Linked DNA regions of Homo sapiens: region 1 is linked to region 2. The links come from fine-mapping of genetic effects on gene expression. A gene starts in region 2. The other region holds a variant in brackets. All regions are shown on one strand. Distances are between the middles of the regions.

Evidence for each region. PIP is the estimated chance that this variant, and not a neighbour inherited with it, causes the effect.
Region 1: its variant is fine-mapped to the expression of CDKAL1 in whole blood (TOPMed, PIP 0.95).

What each region holds. Positions count from the first base shown.
Region 1 is chr6:21,230,058-21,238,398 of GRCh38, reverse strand. CDKAL1 (CDKAL1 threonylcarbamoyladenosine tRNA methylthiotransferase) reads right to left here. Exons shown (of 16, transcript NM_017774.3): 16 at 5,995-7,551. The coding sequence ends at 7,360. It overlaps LOC107986578 (a long non-coding RNA gene), which reads left to right and starts at 7,340. Exons shown (of 2, transcript XR_001744021.2): 1 at 7,340-7,708. RefSeq lists an enhancer at 6,979-8,178. The variant A/T (reference allele first, on the strand shown) is at 4,563.
Region 2 is chr6:20,530,238-20,538,578 of GRCh38, reverse strand. CDKAL1 (CDKAL1 threonylcarbamoyladenosine tRNA methylthiotransferase) reads right to left here and starts at 4,122. Exons shown (of 16, transcript NM_017774.3): 1 at 4,005-4,122; 2 at 3,185-3,228. RefSeq lists enhancers at 3,924-4,003, 4,034-4,193.

The DNA.
Region 1 (8,341 bases), 700 kb before region 2:
CAAATCCAATGTCATGAAGATTTTCCCTAATGTTTTCTTCTATGAGTTTTATAATTTTAACTCAAGTTTAAGTATTTGATCCATTTTGAGGTAATTTTTGTACATGGTATAAGGTGAAGTCCAACTTTATTCTTTTGCACATGGATATCCAGTTTTCCCCACAGCATTTGTTGAAAATACTGTCCTTTCTCTATTTAATGGTGTTGGCGCCCTTGTTGAAAATCAATTGATTACATATGTGAGAATTTATTTCTGGGCTTTCTACTCTAGTCCTTTGGTCTCTGTCTGTCCTTAAGCAGGTATCACAGTTGTAGTTACTGTAGCTTTGTTGGAAGTTTTGAAGTTGGAAAACATGAGTCCTCCAGTTTTAGTCTACTTTTTAGAGATTGTTTTAGCTATTTGGGGTTGCCTGTGATTCCATATGAGTTTGAGGGTTGGCTTTTCCATTTTGGTAAAACAGGCTGTTAGAATTTTGATAGAGAGTGTGTTTAATCTGTAGCTCACTTTGGGTAGTATTAACATCTTAATGCTAAGTTTTCCTATTAATGAACATACGATACCTTTCCATTTTTCAGATATTCATAAATTTCTTTCAGCAATGATTTTTAGTTTTCAGCATACAAATCTTTTACCCCCTTAGTTAGATATATTCCTAAGTGTTTAATTTGTTTAGCTGCTATTGTAGATGGAACTGCTTTCTCAATTTCCTTTTCGGATTGTTCATTGCTAGTGTAAAAAAACACAAATGAATTTCTTTTTTTGCATTGGTCTTATAGTCTGTAACTTTGCTAAATTCATTTATTAGCTCTAGTTGCTTTCCTGTGGTTTCTTTGGGATGCTTTATACATATGATCATGTAATCTGCAAATAGAGATAGTGTTACCTACTCCTTTCCAATTTGATGCCCTTTACTTCTTTTTGTTGTCTAATAGTTCTCACTAGAACTCCCAGTACAATGTAAACAGCAGTGGTGAAAGCAGGCATTGGGCTTTGGAATCAGACTGTCTAGTATAACATCTATTGGTTTGTGATTAATTGGGCATATTAAAAGCAGATTAGATAAACCTCGGAGTTAAAAACTCATACTTCTTTAGGTTTTTCTGAACTCCAAGTTTTCCTTTACCTTGACCCAAGGTTGTTCTCCTCCATCCCCCTGCTTTTTTTTTTCCTGAGAACTTGCATCATTAGTGCTCAGAAATGTATTCAGATACCCAGAAGCTAGGAAGATCATGAGACACCAAGTGACATCCTTTGCTTCAGCTTCTACACCGTTGAGATATTTTGGCTATAGAACTCTAGGAAACAGTACTGGGAGAAAATAATTGACAGAAAACTAATCAAGAATAATAGTGTCTGCATTTCCTTTTAGTCTCAAAGCAGGATGGGGGAGGGCATGACTTCTAGGCCTCCCTATTAATCTGGTTGCTCTTTTCATCTTTGGCCATGGAAAATCTCCTTCTTGATCTTAGATTGGCCACCCAAATCTGTGCTCCACACTATTCATTAATTTGATCTCCTCAAATACAGCTGCAGTCCATTGCCTTTGAATTTTTCTTCCTTTGCTGCATTTGTTAGAATCAGACTCTATCTCTCTCAAGGTAGGAATCTTTTTATTCCATATATAAATCTTTTGGGTGGTCATGTGTTGATATCAGAATTTAAAACACCTAACTTTATTTATAAAGGTATTTTTCACCTTTAAGTGGCTACAGTAATCAAAAAAGAGGAGGAAATGTCATGTGTCAAGAATACAGTATTTTATATGCATGAGTTCACTTATCTTTCAATGACCCACAATGGAATCTTGTTCCTGTTTTAGAGATGTGGCTCAAAAAGAAAAAGTGGTCTGGCTGGAATTTAAAGTTTTGCTGATGTCAAAAATCTCATGGTCTTTCCTTATATTTTCTGCCTCAAATTTGTATTGGAAACAACTGAGAGCTGAATCCAAGTGATTCTGATTGTTAACTCCTTTACAGTTTCAACATCATAAAAATCAAACTCAACGGCAAGTCCAGTGTAAATTTATCAAACACATGCTATGGATAATCTAACTTTAAAGTAAGGGGAAAATATTTTGAGAAGGGATTAGGACTCCAGATTATAAGTTTGACATGGATCCTTTAAATTAGGTTGTATCATAGAGCAGAGGTTTTCAAACTTTCTTGATTGTTTGTACCCCTAGGCCAAAAGCAGCAGCTAACCTTCTGTTTAAATAGGTAATCCTGACAACTGAATAAGCATTTATATCCTACTATCTTATGAGAACCGTTTGAAAAAATAATACATGTAACTTAGATAAAAATATTAATATTTTATTTCATATTAATTTTACTTATTAATGGCAGCTGTGCATCTGTTGGGTACAGCACCCCTTCTCAAACCTTGGACTATGATCACAATTTTCACTTCTTGTTCCACATTGATTTTCACTTGATACTTGCTTTTTATCACAGCAATTGCTGAAAATCCAGTTTTATAAAGACATGGTGTCATCAAAATTTGTGAAATCTAACGTTGAAAACTGTGAACTATTTTGAGCTGGTAGTTGGCCTGGTATCTGACAGATGTTGCTGTGTTCCCTCCAAAAATTTAAGGAATCCCAGGGTGCTCCTGTGAATGTGCCACAGCATCCTGGGGTGCCTGGGGGGACCAGCAAACCTTTTAGAAAACGTACATATTCATTTTTTATTGTGAGTATTTAAGGTGAACATGTATTGATACACATATACACAGCAAAATGGTGGCTACAGTCAAGTGAATTACCATACCCATCATCTCATATGATTACCTTTTTTGTTGTTGCTGCAAGCCTTAAGAATATCTTTTCTCCTTTTCTTTTTCTTCCTTTTCTCTCCCCTCCTTTCTTCTCTTCCCTCCCTCTCTCTCTTCATTTTTTTCCTATGTTTGTTTTATGATGACAAACCCTCTTGAAGCTTGATTTGTAACTCTAATTCTCCCTCCATGACATCTTACAATATACACTGAAATTTTCAACCTGGAGTGAAGTCAGTAGAAGTAGTATATGTTTTGACTGAATGACATATGGAAATCTGATGTTTAGACACATTTTCCCAGCAACAAAGCAAAGTTTTAACCCAAGAATTCTTTACATTCTCAAACTGACTATCTCATGCTGGGATGATAAGAAAGGAAGCAGGGATGATAAGATGAAGCAGGGACAATAGAAAGGAGGGAAAGAAAGAAGGAAGGAAGGAGGGGGCAGGGCAAAGAAAAAAGCTTGATTAGTAAATCTTTATTTAAAAAGTATATCAAGTACCATGCACATTCTTGGAGCAGGACAACACAGACTGAAAGGCTGAAGGCCCCCAAGCTCAGGCATCCACAGGATTGATCCTAAATGTGTATCTGTTGGCACAGGTCAAGTTTAAGTCAAAGATGGGACAGAGGAGCAGGAGGAGTTTACAGAAGAGGAGTATATGCTTTGGAGTCAGGCTGTGTACCAGTCCTGCCTCTAAACTTAAGAGCTCTGTGCCTCTTGCACAAGTTACTTAGTCTTTTGAGTTTTAGATTTTCTTCTCAGTATGATGGGAATCACAATACGTATCTCAAAATTTTTTCTTCAGGACTGATTAACACCTGTTAAGTGCAAAGTATAACATCCAGTGCATTTCATTTAAGGACTAGACAGTTAATGGTTGTCAATATTATCATTACTATTAAAATAGGAATGACTTGTGGAAGGGAGACAGCAGAGACAAGGTCTGCTGAAGAATATCTAAGGTCCAAAGAGAAAAAATAGTGGGAGAATGACAGAATTCATGTCAACTGCTGGTGGGGATGTAAATTGGTACAACCACTTCAGAAAACCATTTAGCAGTATCTAAGCTGAACATATGCAAATGCTATGACCCAGCAATTCCACCCCTAGACATGTACTCCTCACATCATCACATAAACACTTAACAAAACGTGTTTATAGCAGCATTATTCATAATAGACAAAAAATTGGAAAGAACTCAAATGTAGAATGAACAATGTGGTGTACTCATACACTGAAATACTATTCAGCAATGAACGTGAAGTAATTACTGCTCACACAATAATCTGGATGTGTCTCACAATCACTGTAGAACAAAAGAAGGTAGACATGAAATAGTGCATACTACATGATTCCACTTATAGAAAGTTTAGAATCAGGCAAATCAATCTGTAATGTTAGAAATAAGGATACTGGTTACTCCTTGCGGGGCAGACTTAATGGCTAGGAGGGTACATGGGGAGCCTCCTGGTGCTGGCTACAATGCTTGCTCAGTTTTTAAAAATCCCTGTATCCCTATGATTTATGTCCATTTCATATGTATGTTTTATTCTAGTAAAGAGTTTAAGAAAAAAATTGGCCAAAGCATTGAAAAGATCACTTCATAGGTTTCCTTCTCAGCAGAGAAGTACACACACACACACACACACACACACACACACACACACCCCTTGATACTAATGCAAAGCATACAAAAGCATACAAAGAAAACATAACAATTACATTTACAATCTGCGGGTCAAGCATCCTATCACGGCTGACACTTCGTATAAATCAGGTTACG[A/T]ATGCTACGGCTACGACCCCCAGATGCCGGTGGCTTAACACAACCACAATATATTTCTGGTTCCTGATGCCTATGTAGCACATGCTGGCCAGGAGCCCTACTCAACTGTACTAACTCAGGGACCCAGGGTCGGGGAGGCGTCATTCTGACATATGGGTCCAGGATCACCACAGCAGTGGGAAGAGCACACAGTAAACCGTACACCAGCTCTGAACATGTCTGCCCCGAAGAAGGACGTGACCCTTCCGCTCACATTTCACATTTCGTGCCTAACTTCAGCGGGGCGGGAGAAGCGCAGTTGCACTGTGGGCAGGAAGGAGACAGGCTGGAAAAGTAACAGCTCTACTCATGATCACACTTGCTCCCGTGGTTCCCAGACTCAGCCCCATTCAGAGTCCAGGGCTTAAGAAAACTGTTTTTAACTTGCACTGCATCCTTCTCTGCTCTCTCCCTCCCCCTCCCTAGAGATGGAGGTCACAGGGGGAAGAAAAACCCTGGATTTCCAGAACACTGCTACCCCTCTCACCAATTGGTCGCCAGTATGGAGACTGATTTCATGAAGGTCCAGCGTCTGCTGCGGGCAGTGACCTCGGTCCCTTTCTGGGTCAAACGGCAGAGTGAAGCTGCAGCCAAATTGAGGGTAAATAACAGTCACAGCAGGAAGTAGGGAGAATCCTGTACAGCTGAAACGATCCTTGAGGATCCCTGCCATGGTAGGTGAGAGCAGCAGGGGGGGAATTTGGATGACTGGGTGTATCATTCTCTTACAGGAAGAAAAAAATGAAAAAAGGCGAGGACAGCATAGAGCTAGAAGGGAGGAAATAAACAGATGAGGGAGTGAGGAAAAGAGTAGGGAAAGAGAAAAGGGAGGTAGAAAAAATCCTTTTTGTCTCCAATCAGTTACAGGTGTAAAGCTTTCTCTATGTCTGATCTAGTGCAACTCTAGGCTTTGGATGGCATTTTTATCTCTGCTAGGTTTTTGTTAAATGAGCACCACACTGGAACCCACTGTTTATTAACAAAGAAATGACTGCGTAGAGCTCAAGAAGGGAGGCACATGGTAGGTTCTTGTCCTCTTCTCATTCCTGCTAAGAAGTGAGGGGTGCTCCCAAGTGGATGTTTCACTGCAGGACTAGAAGCAGCACAGGAGGATTTTTGCATTCTAAATGTGAGCACCTCTTAGAAGCACATACCAGTTCCAGGAGAAATGTACTAACACTAAAAGCATATATATTTTATAATTTACCAACTAGGACATGACTGAATTTTAATTTGGGTTCCTTAAAAGACACACAAAACACAAACATTTTGAGTTAAATGTAAGAGCTGAAGAGGGGTATGGGTTTCGAGATGGAAAATATCCTATGGTAACTACACGGTACCTGGTTTTCCTGTACCTATGCAATCCAAATAAATTCTCAAAAACATAGGATTTGCTTAGTATACCAATTCTATTTATTGTTAAAGAAAGAAGTCACTTCACTTAGTAAAGACCAATGATGGCAGGTAGAAATAAAAACATTTAATCTGGGCTGGGTGGAGTGGCTCACGCCTGTAATCCCAGCACTTTGGGAGGCTGAGGCAAGAAGACTGCTTGAGGCTAGGAGTTCCAGGCAAGCCTGGGCAACATAGTGACACTCATCTCTACAAAAAATTAAAAAATTAGTTGGGCATGGTGGTATATGCCTGTAGCCCCTGGCTATTAGGGAGGCTGAGGTAGGAGGACTGCTTGAGTCCAGGAGGTCAAGGCTGCAGTGAGCCAAGATAGTGCCATTGCACTCCAGCCAGGGTGACAGAGTGAGACCTTGACTCAAAAAAAAAAAAAAACAAAAACAAAAAAAAAACCCCAATGGATCAAAAATGTGAGAAAATGGGCACAATTAGTTTTCGACAAATCCAGTTTTCCAGTTTCATATTTCACAGAATGTTGCCAGGAGTCCTTTAGCTGGCAGACTCTCCCCGTGCATTCCAAAAGCATTCAGGTTCCCAGAACAGGTTTCTATACACTTTTCAGGAACACATCTGCTGTGAAAAATACAATGTTTGTAGCACTGGGACTCCAAACAAAGCCTGAAGGGGAAGATGCACTTAAAAATATTTATTAAAGAGGCCGGGCGCAGTGGCTCACGCCTGTAATCCTAGCACTTTGGGAGGCCGAGGCGGGCGGATCACTTGAGGTCAGGAGTTCGAGACTAGCCTGGCCAACATGGTGAAACTCCGTCTCTACTGAAAACACAAAAAAATTGTCTGGGCTTGGTGGCGCATGCCTGTAATCCCAGCTACTTGGGAGGCTGAGGCAGGAGAATCGTTTGAACCCAGGAGGCAGAGGTTGCAGTGACCTGAGATCGTGCCACTGCACCACTCCAGCCTGGGGGACAAGAGCGAAACTCCATCTGGAAAAAAAAAACAAAGAAAAAGTTTATTAAAGATAGAAAATTCTTCCACATGAGGAAAAGATGGCCAGAGCCACTGTACAATTAGGTTCTGACTTAAAGATTAGAGATTGAAACAAACAGAAAAAAATGCAACCGCTTGCATTTCTTGCTAAAAGTAAACCAAAAGCAGTTTAATTTGAAGGATGTGCTATGGTAGCGGTGATTAGGTTTTAGGTCAAATAACCAATGGGCCCAACTCAATGTGAGACAGGGGGAGCCTCATTAAGAAGAGTGGCTGAGAAGGAGGCAGCATGACCAGTACAAATTATTGCCCTTGGAGAATGGAGATGTCGCTTTCCTGTTCATTGAAGATTTTAATTAGAAATGTATTCTTCTTTATAGATGTTTCCATTAGTTGTATTCTAATTATAGACCTTGACAAAAAAAGCAAAAAGAAGACCCAGCAGAGCCAAGCCCACGGACATCCTCAGCGCACAGTCTTGATGTAGCCTTGGCATGGGCAGCACCATTCTGGAACTCGCTGAGTCACACTGAGATGCAGCAGAGGTGTGGGATCCTGAACTCAGCTGGTTCCCAAGCCCATTTCTGAAGTCCTATAAAGAGAGAAACAGAGGAAAAAATTATTTTTAGATGCAGAGAAAGCCCTGTTGTGATATCAATCAAGCAATGGGTTCCAGAAGGTGCCGCCTTTTATGTACTCCTTCAACAGAGACACGTTTGAACACCCACCATGGGCCAGGTGGCCCCAAGGTAGGTATGAATGAGTCAGTTCCTTTCCTTGAAGGGCCAGGCCAAGTTCATGACTCCAGACTACACATAAACTGTATGAGAAAGACGGGCCGTGTTTATAGAAAATCAAGGCAGAATTCATGAAGGGTAGAATCTGTGTAAAGTGGAGTCATACCACAGACATATTTAACTCTTAGAGAGATGCAACCATATCTTCTCAGCAATGGAAGAATGACAAAGAAACACCATGGGCCAGGTGTGGTGGCTCACGCCTGTAATCCCAGCACTTTGGGAGGCCAAGGCGGGCTGATCACTTGAGGTCAGAGGTTTGAGACCAGCCTGGCCAACATGGTGAAACCCCGTCTCCACTAAAAATATAAAAATTAGCTGGGTGTGGTGGCAGGTGCCGGTAGTCCCAGCTACTCTGGAGGCTGAGGCAGGAGAATTGCTGGAACCTGGAAGGTGAAGGCTACAGTGAGCCAAGATTGCGCTGCTGCACTCCAGCCTGGGCAACAGAGTGAGACCCTGTCTCAAAAACAAACAAACCAACCAACAACCATGGAAGCCATGATTCAGCAAACACATCCCTAGGACAAAGATTCCCAGCTGGTCTGCTGCCACAGGAGGGCTGCGCCAAGAGTGACCCACCCCACA
Region 2 (8,341 bases):
ACTGAAGAGAAATAGAAAGGAAAAAGAGGAATGAAAGGAATCCACTGCAATAGACATCCCATATCATTAGAGTTAGAGAAGCAGAAGTTGCTAAGCTTCTTATCTTACAGAGCTGGAGTCCACTGAAGCAAAAGGATTTGTACATTGATAGAGCTAGAAATCAGAACCTTGGCATCCTCTCAATACCATGCTCTTCCCACTATGGCTTTGCCTCACTGGCAAAGTACAAACAATGCAAGAATCTAATGTGACACTAATAAGTAACCACATTCCAGAAAACAATGCGTAAAGGAAAAACAGGCAGTTCACTTAAGAAATACAAATACCCAGAAAAGAAAAAAAAAAAAAGAGGAAAGAATGCTCAACCACACTAACAACAAGTATTGAAACAATAAGTTATTTTTCAGCTGCCTCACTGATACAAAGCTGACAAAAACTCTGTTAGCTGAAAGCACAGAAAAACTGGTACACCCCTTCTGGAGGGCAACCTGACAATTATACCAAACATATGTATATCCTTCGAGCCAGCAATTTCATTTGGAGATATTCACTCAAAAAAGATAAATATAACGCTGCATATCAGCATTATGTAGCATAAACCTGGCTGTATATCATAAGTACCTAAATAATCTCACTCATCACTATTAATAAGCTAAAGGTTTTACTTTGAACAAACTGATAGACTGATAGAGGGAATTGTTTAGCCTTCAGAAATTTTTAATTAAATCATATGGAAATGAAAGTTTGAGAATAAAAGGAAAGCAGCGTAATAGCTAAATGGAGCAAAAGGATCATTAAAAATTTTTCTCAAAGGTAGAGGAAATCAAATTTGATAAAGGGAATAAAAATAGAGTCAGTGAAAAGGAAAATACTCAAAATGATAGGAAGAAGGAGGATGCAATATCCTAGAGCAGTGGTTACTTACATAGGTGAGTTATTAGGGAGGCTTTTTTTTTTTTTTTTTGTAATTATGAGACAGAGTTTCACTCTTGCTGCCCAGGCTGGAGTGCAATGGCACGATCTCGGCTCACTGCAACCTGTGCCTCCTGGGTTCAAGCAATTCTCCTGCCTCAGCCTCCCGAGTAGCTGGGATTACAGGCACCTGCCACCACGCCCAGCTAATTTTGTATTTTTAGTAGAGACGGGGTTTCACCATGTTGGTCAGGCTGGTCTTGAACTCCCAACCTCAGGTGATCCACCTGCCTTGGCCTCCCAAAGTGCTGGGATTACAGGCGTGAGCCACTGCACCCAGCGGGAAGCTTTTCATCATATCAAATCTCCAGGTTCCATTCTGAATTAGAATCTCCAAGAGTAGAACTGAAGTATGTGAACATAGAAACTGTCCAGGTAATTCCACTATAGATCCCTAATTAAGAACCACGATTCCACAGTAATGGTTCTCAATCTTCAACACTCATTCTATTCACCTGAAGAGCTTTTGAAAATTCCCAACTAAGCTTGCAGTGAGCCGAGATCACGCCACTGCACTCCAGCCTGGGCGACAGAGCGAGACTCTGTCTCAAAACAAAAACAAAAACAAAAGAAAAAAAAGAAAATTCCCAACTAAGCCCCAAGATAGCTGAATGAATCTCTGAGAATGGAGCCTGGGCATCAATATCTTTTAAAAACTTTCCAGTCATTCTCATGTGTGTACAGCCACAGTTGCAAAGCAATGTCCAGTGGTTTTCAAAGTGTAGTTTCCACATCAGCTGGAGTAGCATCATGGGGAACTTGTTAGAAATGAACATTTTTTCTTTTTCAGTTTTTTTGTAAAAACAAGGTCTCGCTTTGTTGTCCAGGCTGGTCTCAAACTCCTCCCATCTTGGCCCCTAAAGTATGGGATTACAGGCATGAGCCACCATGCCCAGCCAGAAATGAAAATTCTTGAACTCCACTCCAGACATACTAAATCAGATATTTTGAGTAAAACCTAGCAATATTTAACAGGCCCTCTAGGTGATTTTGATCTGAATTAAAGTTTGATAATCACTGTCCCAGAATTATTCTTTCATAAAAACCACCTAGAATGTATGTCAAATATACATAACCTAGACAATTCAAGGGGGAAAGCGTAGTTTTTTTTTCAACAAATGACACTGGGATAACTGGATAGCAACATGTAAAAAATAAAGTTGGAGCCCTATTTCACATTTCACATCATATACAAAAATTAACCGAAAATGGATCATAGACCTAAATTTAGGAGCTAACATTATGAAACTCTTAGAAAAAAACATAAGCACAAATCTTTATGATGTTAGAGTAGGCCCTTCTTTCTTAGCTAAGAAATGAAAAGCACAAGCAACAAAAGGAAAAACAGATTAGATGAAGAAGATACAGAAATGGGCCAGGTGCAGAGGCTCATGCCTATAATCCCAACACTGGGAAGCCAAGGTGGCAGGATCACTTCAGGCCAGGAGTACAAGGCCAGAGCCTAGGCAACACGGACCCTATCGCTACAAAAAAAAAAAAAAAAGTAAAATTTAGCCGGGCATGGTGGCATGCACCTGTAGTCCCAGCTACTTGGGAGGCTGAAGTGGGATCACTTGAGACCAGGTGGTCAAGGCTGCAGTGAGCCGTAATCGAGCCACTGCACTCTGGCCTGGGTGGCATAGGGAAGCCGTGTCTCAAAAACACACACATACAAATGGCTGATAAGCACATGAAAAGATGTCAACATCATGAGCCATCAGGGAAATGGAAATCCAAACCACAATAATACACCACTTCATACCCATTAGGATGGGTAGAATCAAAAAGACAAATAACTGTTGACAGGCATGTGGATTACATCACCCAGAGGGGAAGAAAAAGAGAACAGAGGTAGGAGAAGGTACAAGACCACGACTTGAGAGACTCCAAATTTAACTGCCAGATAAAGGAAAATCAGCTTATAATGGATTCCAAGAAGCAGCCACCAGACAAGGAAAAAAATCCATGGGCCATGGAAGGCAAATGAAAAGGGCATCTCAAAAAAGTGGACATGGTCAATGCTGGTGAATGAAAATGAAAGGTTAAGTAAAATAAATGAAAATATCTCTTCGATTTAATGCTATGTAAAGCACAATGTTTCCATAACATGATAGTGGCAAATAGCTAAAACATTAGGCTACCTCTCTGCATTTTCTAACATGCAGAAATACGCACAGCACTCAAACATAAAAGGTTTAAAATAAATCAGTACCTTAATTATCTGCAATTAGTCTAAAGTCCTCTTGAAAGATGAGTCTGGAAAATAAAAATTGATTAGGAAAAGTAAGCACCCAAAAAGTTCACAAAACCACTGTAAGGATTCTTTACTTAAAAGGAATCAGACTCCATAAAAGACTGCTTTATACAGCAGGATTAATGATGCTCCATACTACTTGTAACTTCTTACTGATTACAACAGGTGTGCTGACATCTGCCGTGACGGTGATCCAGTGTCTGGCTTTAGTAATAAATGTTGTATTCAGCACCGCAACACGTCTGCATAGTGCGAGTAACCAACCACTACAAAACAGGATTAAGTCAATAAGGTAGATAGACATCCAGATCACGTTCCATCCGAAAGATAACTGTCGTCCCGAGATTCAGAAAAAGGTTTTATGAGCAAAGAAGAACGAAAAGTGAAAAAGCAAGACACCTGCTTTTCTCAATAACTTCTGCTTAAATTCTTAACATACTGATCTGGGAAAGCTATATAACTGCGAAAGCCTTGTCACATCTACAAATTCACTAAGGTATAAAGTGGGAGAACAAATGAAGTTAAACCTGACAATAAGGAACGAGGTGCCTAAAATACTCCTAACTGGAGAGCGGCACCTGAGGCCAACGACCCTATCCTCGCTCCTGGAAGCCCCATCTGCCTCCCAATTCCCCCATCCCAGCTGGCAAATCCCCTTTTAACTGCGAAACAAATTTGCAAACAGCCCAAGAAAAACTGAAACTGGAGAAACAAGGCTTGGCCATAAAAGGAGCTGTGGCCACACTCTGCCCCACATGGACCCATCGGCCACCCTTACCCAGAAGTCGGGAAGTAAAAACCAGTCCAAAGTGAGAAAATCAACCCGCCACTCTCCGGAAGCTGCACAGACTTTAGATGGAGAGCGCCATGACACATACGTCCCGCCACGTTTATTTGCGCATGCTCAGCGACGGTGGCCCGAAGAGATCAAATTACATCATTGCTGAAAGCGCTAGTTCTGGTTTAACTTAGTTTAGGAATGACTACGCTTCAAGTTCCTTTGATTCCAAGAACTAAAATAACAACCCTGAGTCCTCGGGTTCCTAGAAATGCTTAATAGCCAACTTCTCCTAAGCTTTTATGTGTTAGACACTGTGCTAAGTACTTTGCATAAATATTATTCACTATTTATTTATTATTATTATTATTCCCAGTTTACAAAAGAGGACACTGGAAGTTTAAGGACTTAATCTAAGTTACTCTACTAGTCGTGCTGCGCTCTGGGCTGGATCCGATGCTGTCTGACTCCCAAAGAACTTGCTCTTTTCACTGCATTTTACTAGCCTCCTCAATCATTTGTGAAAAGAGGTCTCTTCTTTAATATTAAAAAAACAGGAAGGAAAGGATAAAGGTCAGTTGGTAGGTTTCACTTAATATACATCATTGAGCACCACACAAGTGTTTTTGTTTTTTGTTTTGGAAAACTTAGATGGCAGTTTAGCAGACACCTATGGAAAGAAAATACTTTTATGGAGTACGGATTCTCACCCGCTTTCTCTACATATGTTATCTCACTTTACTATTCGTTACCCAAGACACTGTATTTGACCATGTGTTTACCAGAAGAATATCTTTACTTGAAAAAGTAAAGGTAATAGGAGGCAATAGGCCATGAAGAAGGGTCAGAAATCGTGAGTTTTATGCCTGACTTAGGGTTTCATAGTGATTTGGGGCAATTACTTTGTTTTGCAAATGCCTTTCCTAGTACAATTTCATCTAATTAAAATGCCATCCATCTACTCAAGAGGCTGATGTGGGAGGATCACTTGAGCTCAGAAGTTTGAAAACAGCCTGGGCAACACAGTGAGACCCAGTCTCTAAAATAGATTTAAAAAAAAAAAAAAAAACCACCCTTTTCTCTGTTTATCCATATCCATAAAATAATCTAAACTGTGCCCTGGGGTCCACTGTTGTCTTTACCCACCTAAATTAAAATTGTGTATTTATGTTGCCCTACTTTTTTTTTTTTTTTTTTTTTTTTTTTAGATAGGGTCTTCTTCTGTCACCCAGGCTGGAGTACAGTGTTACCATCACAGCTCACTGCAACCTCTCCCTCCTAGCCTCAAGAGATTCTCATGCCTTAGCCTCCCAAGTAGCTGGGACTACAGGTGCACACCACCATACCCATCTAATTCCATCTCTTTCACTAGACCAAAAGTAGGCCCTGGGTTATCTTCTTGGTTGTAATCGCACTACCTAGCACATAACCTTGTGCCTATGTTTATAGCTTCTCAATAAACATATGTTGAATGAATGAATGAATGAATGAATGACTCCACCCCTTTTCCCCCAAGATCTAGTTGAGTTCAGTAAAAGATATTTTACTGAGTATGTACCCCATGACCACAAGCACTGTGATAGATGCTAGAGCTAAAAAGAAAGAAAAAAAGTACTGCCTATTGCAATTGCAGGCTATTTTGAAAAAATTCATTTCAGTAGAGAATAGCAATCACTATGAAAGATGAATGCACAGGAACACAAAGGTGAAGTAAGGGAAATGGATGAAGGCATTCCAAGCTGGAGAGTCAGCCAGAGCAAAAGCAAGGAGGCCTGAAATGATGAATTATTCCACAGTGTAAAAGCAAAGAGAGTGAAGCTGGTGATGGGAGAAGTCTACCAGAGAAAGGGAAGCACAGGGACTAGATCAAGGTGAACCTTGTGTATTCAAAGGCATTAGACTTAATCCTGGATGTATGTAGTAGGCAACATGAATGTGTTCGAGCAGATTATTCTCTCAGGACAATGGGTTTGAGGACGATATTTCAGACATGAAGAAATAGTAAAAGCCTAAATTGAGTTGTTGGCTGGGAGGAATGGGAAGGAAGGACAGATTTAAACAAATTGAGGAGGTAACAGCAGCAAGACTTGGTGATTGATAGGTACGAAAAAAGAGGAAGAAAGGATGTTTTCAAGTTTTGGCTACAAAAACTAACTAACAGGTGAAACCTCTCTCTTTAAGCACCTTTAGTCTAAATCCTTTGAAGTCAGTAACCCTACCTCTAGGAATTTATCTTACAGAAATATACATAATGACCTATGTTCCAGAGTATTTTTTGAAGCATTGCTTACAATGACCTATGTTCCAGAGTATTTTTTGAAGCATTGCTTACAATGACCTATGTTCCAGAGTATTTTTTTAAGCATTGCTTACAATAGCAAAAGACTGGAAACCCTCTCCGGCTCCTCCTCAATAGAGTATTGGTTAAATATATTTATAGTATCTGTACAACCTTTGAAAAGCAACCAGTAAGTCCGGGTGCAGTGGATCACGCCTGTAATCCTAGCACTTTGGGAAGCCGAGGCGGGTGGATCGCCTGAGGCCAAGAGTTCAAGACCAGACTGACCAACATGGTGAAACCCTGTCTCTACTAAAAATACAAAATTAGCTGGGTGTGGTGGCATATGCCTGTAATCCCAGCTACTCAGGAGGCTGAGGCAGGAGAATCTCTTGAACCCAGGAGGTGGAGGTTGCAGTGAGCGGAGATTACACCATTGCACTCCAGCCTGGACAACAAGAGCGAAACTCCATCTCAAAAAGATTAAAAAAAAAAAAAAAAGGCCAGGCACGATGGCTTACGGCTGTAATCCCAGCACTTTGGAAGGCTAAGGTGGGCGGATCACGAGGTCAGGAGATCAAGACCATACTGGCTAACATGGTAAAACGCTGTCTCTACTAAAAATACAAAAAATTAGCCAGGCATGGTGGCATGAGCCTGTAGTCCCAACTACTCGGGAGGCTGAGGCAGGAGAATCGCTTGAACCTGGAAGGCGGAGATTGCAGTGAGCTGAGATCGCGCCACTGCACTCCAGCCTGGGCAACACAGTGAGACTCCGTCTCAAAGAAAAAAAAAAATAATGCTTTGTTTCTTAAATTAGAGTTAAGCTTCATAAATATACACCATCCTATTTTGTTCCTGTTTTTTCAGCCAACAATATAACACTAAATGCTTTATAAATATTTGGTAATAAGTAAACAAACCAATTGGTGTATACCAAGAACATTAAAAATGCAAGTAAATCTATAAAATAATAGTAAAGCTAAGATTTTTTCAAACACTTATAAATGTGTGCCAATAACCACCCATAAGTAACCCTATAAATGAGGAGTGCTATTATTATCTTGTTATCTCTTTTAACAGAGAAGAAACCTAAAGCTTAGGCAGTCTGACTTCAGTTGTTTTAACAACTCTATATGAATACTTCAGAAGAAAGCAACAATAGTGCAAAATTTCAAATAGAGAAAAAGCATTGGAGAGAAAAAACAAAAGAGTGATCAAGGAAAAGTGGAATAAAATCTGTTTGCCTGGACCGGGCACAGTGGCTCATGCCTGTAATCCCAGCACTTTAGGGGGCCGAGACAGGTGGATCACGAGGTCACAAATTCAAGACCAGCCTGGCCAAGATGGTGAAATCCCGTCTCTACTAAAAATACAAAACTTAGCCGGGCGCGGTGGCAGGCACCTGTAGTCCCAGGTACTCGGGAGGCTGAGGCAGGAGAATCGCTTGAACCTGGAAGGTGGAGGTTGCAGTAAGCCGAGATCGCGCCACTGCACTCCAGCCTGGGTGACACAGTGAGACTCCATCTCAAAAAAAAAAAAAAAATCTGTTTGCCTTAAATATTTTATGTTGGCCTTCACAGTAAAAATTGAAGAGAAAATATGGACAAGAAAGAAGTTACACAATTCTTACCCTCTCAGTGACTAATCAATAAAGAATAAAATATGAAAATTATAAAAATCTGGGGCCAGGCACGGTGGCTCATGCCTGTAATCCTAGCACTTTGGGAGGCACAGGCAGTTGTTTCACTTGAGCCCAAGAGTTTGAGACCAGCCTGGGCAACATGACCAGACCCTGTCTCTACAAAACAAACAAAAAAGTAGCCGGACATGGTGGTTCCAGCTACTCGGGAGGCTGAGGTGGGAGAATCACTTGAGCTCAGAAGGTCCAGTTTGCAGTGAGCCGAAATCACACCGCTGCACTCCAGTCCAGGCAGCAGAATGAGACCCTCTCTCAAAAATAAATAAATAAAATTAAAATTAAGAATTGGGAACTGCTTTTTAAGATTATGTTTTGGAGACAGGGTCTGGCTTTGTCACCCAGGCTGGAGAACAGTGG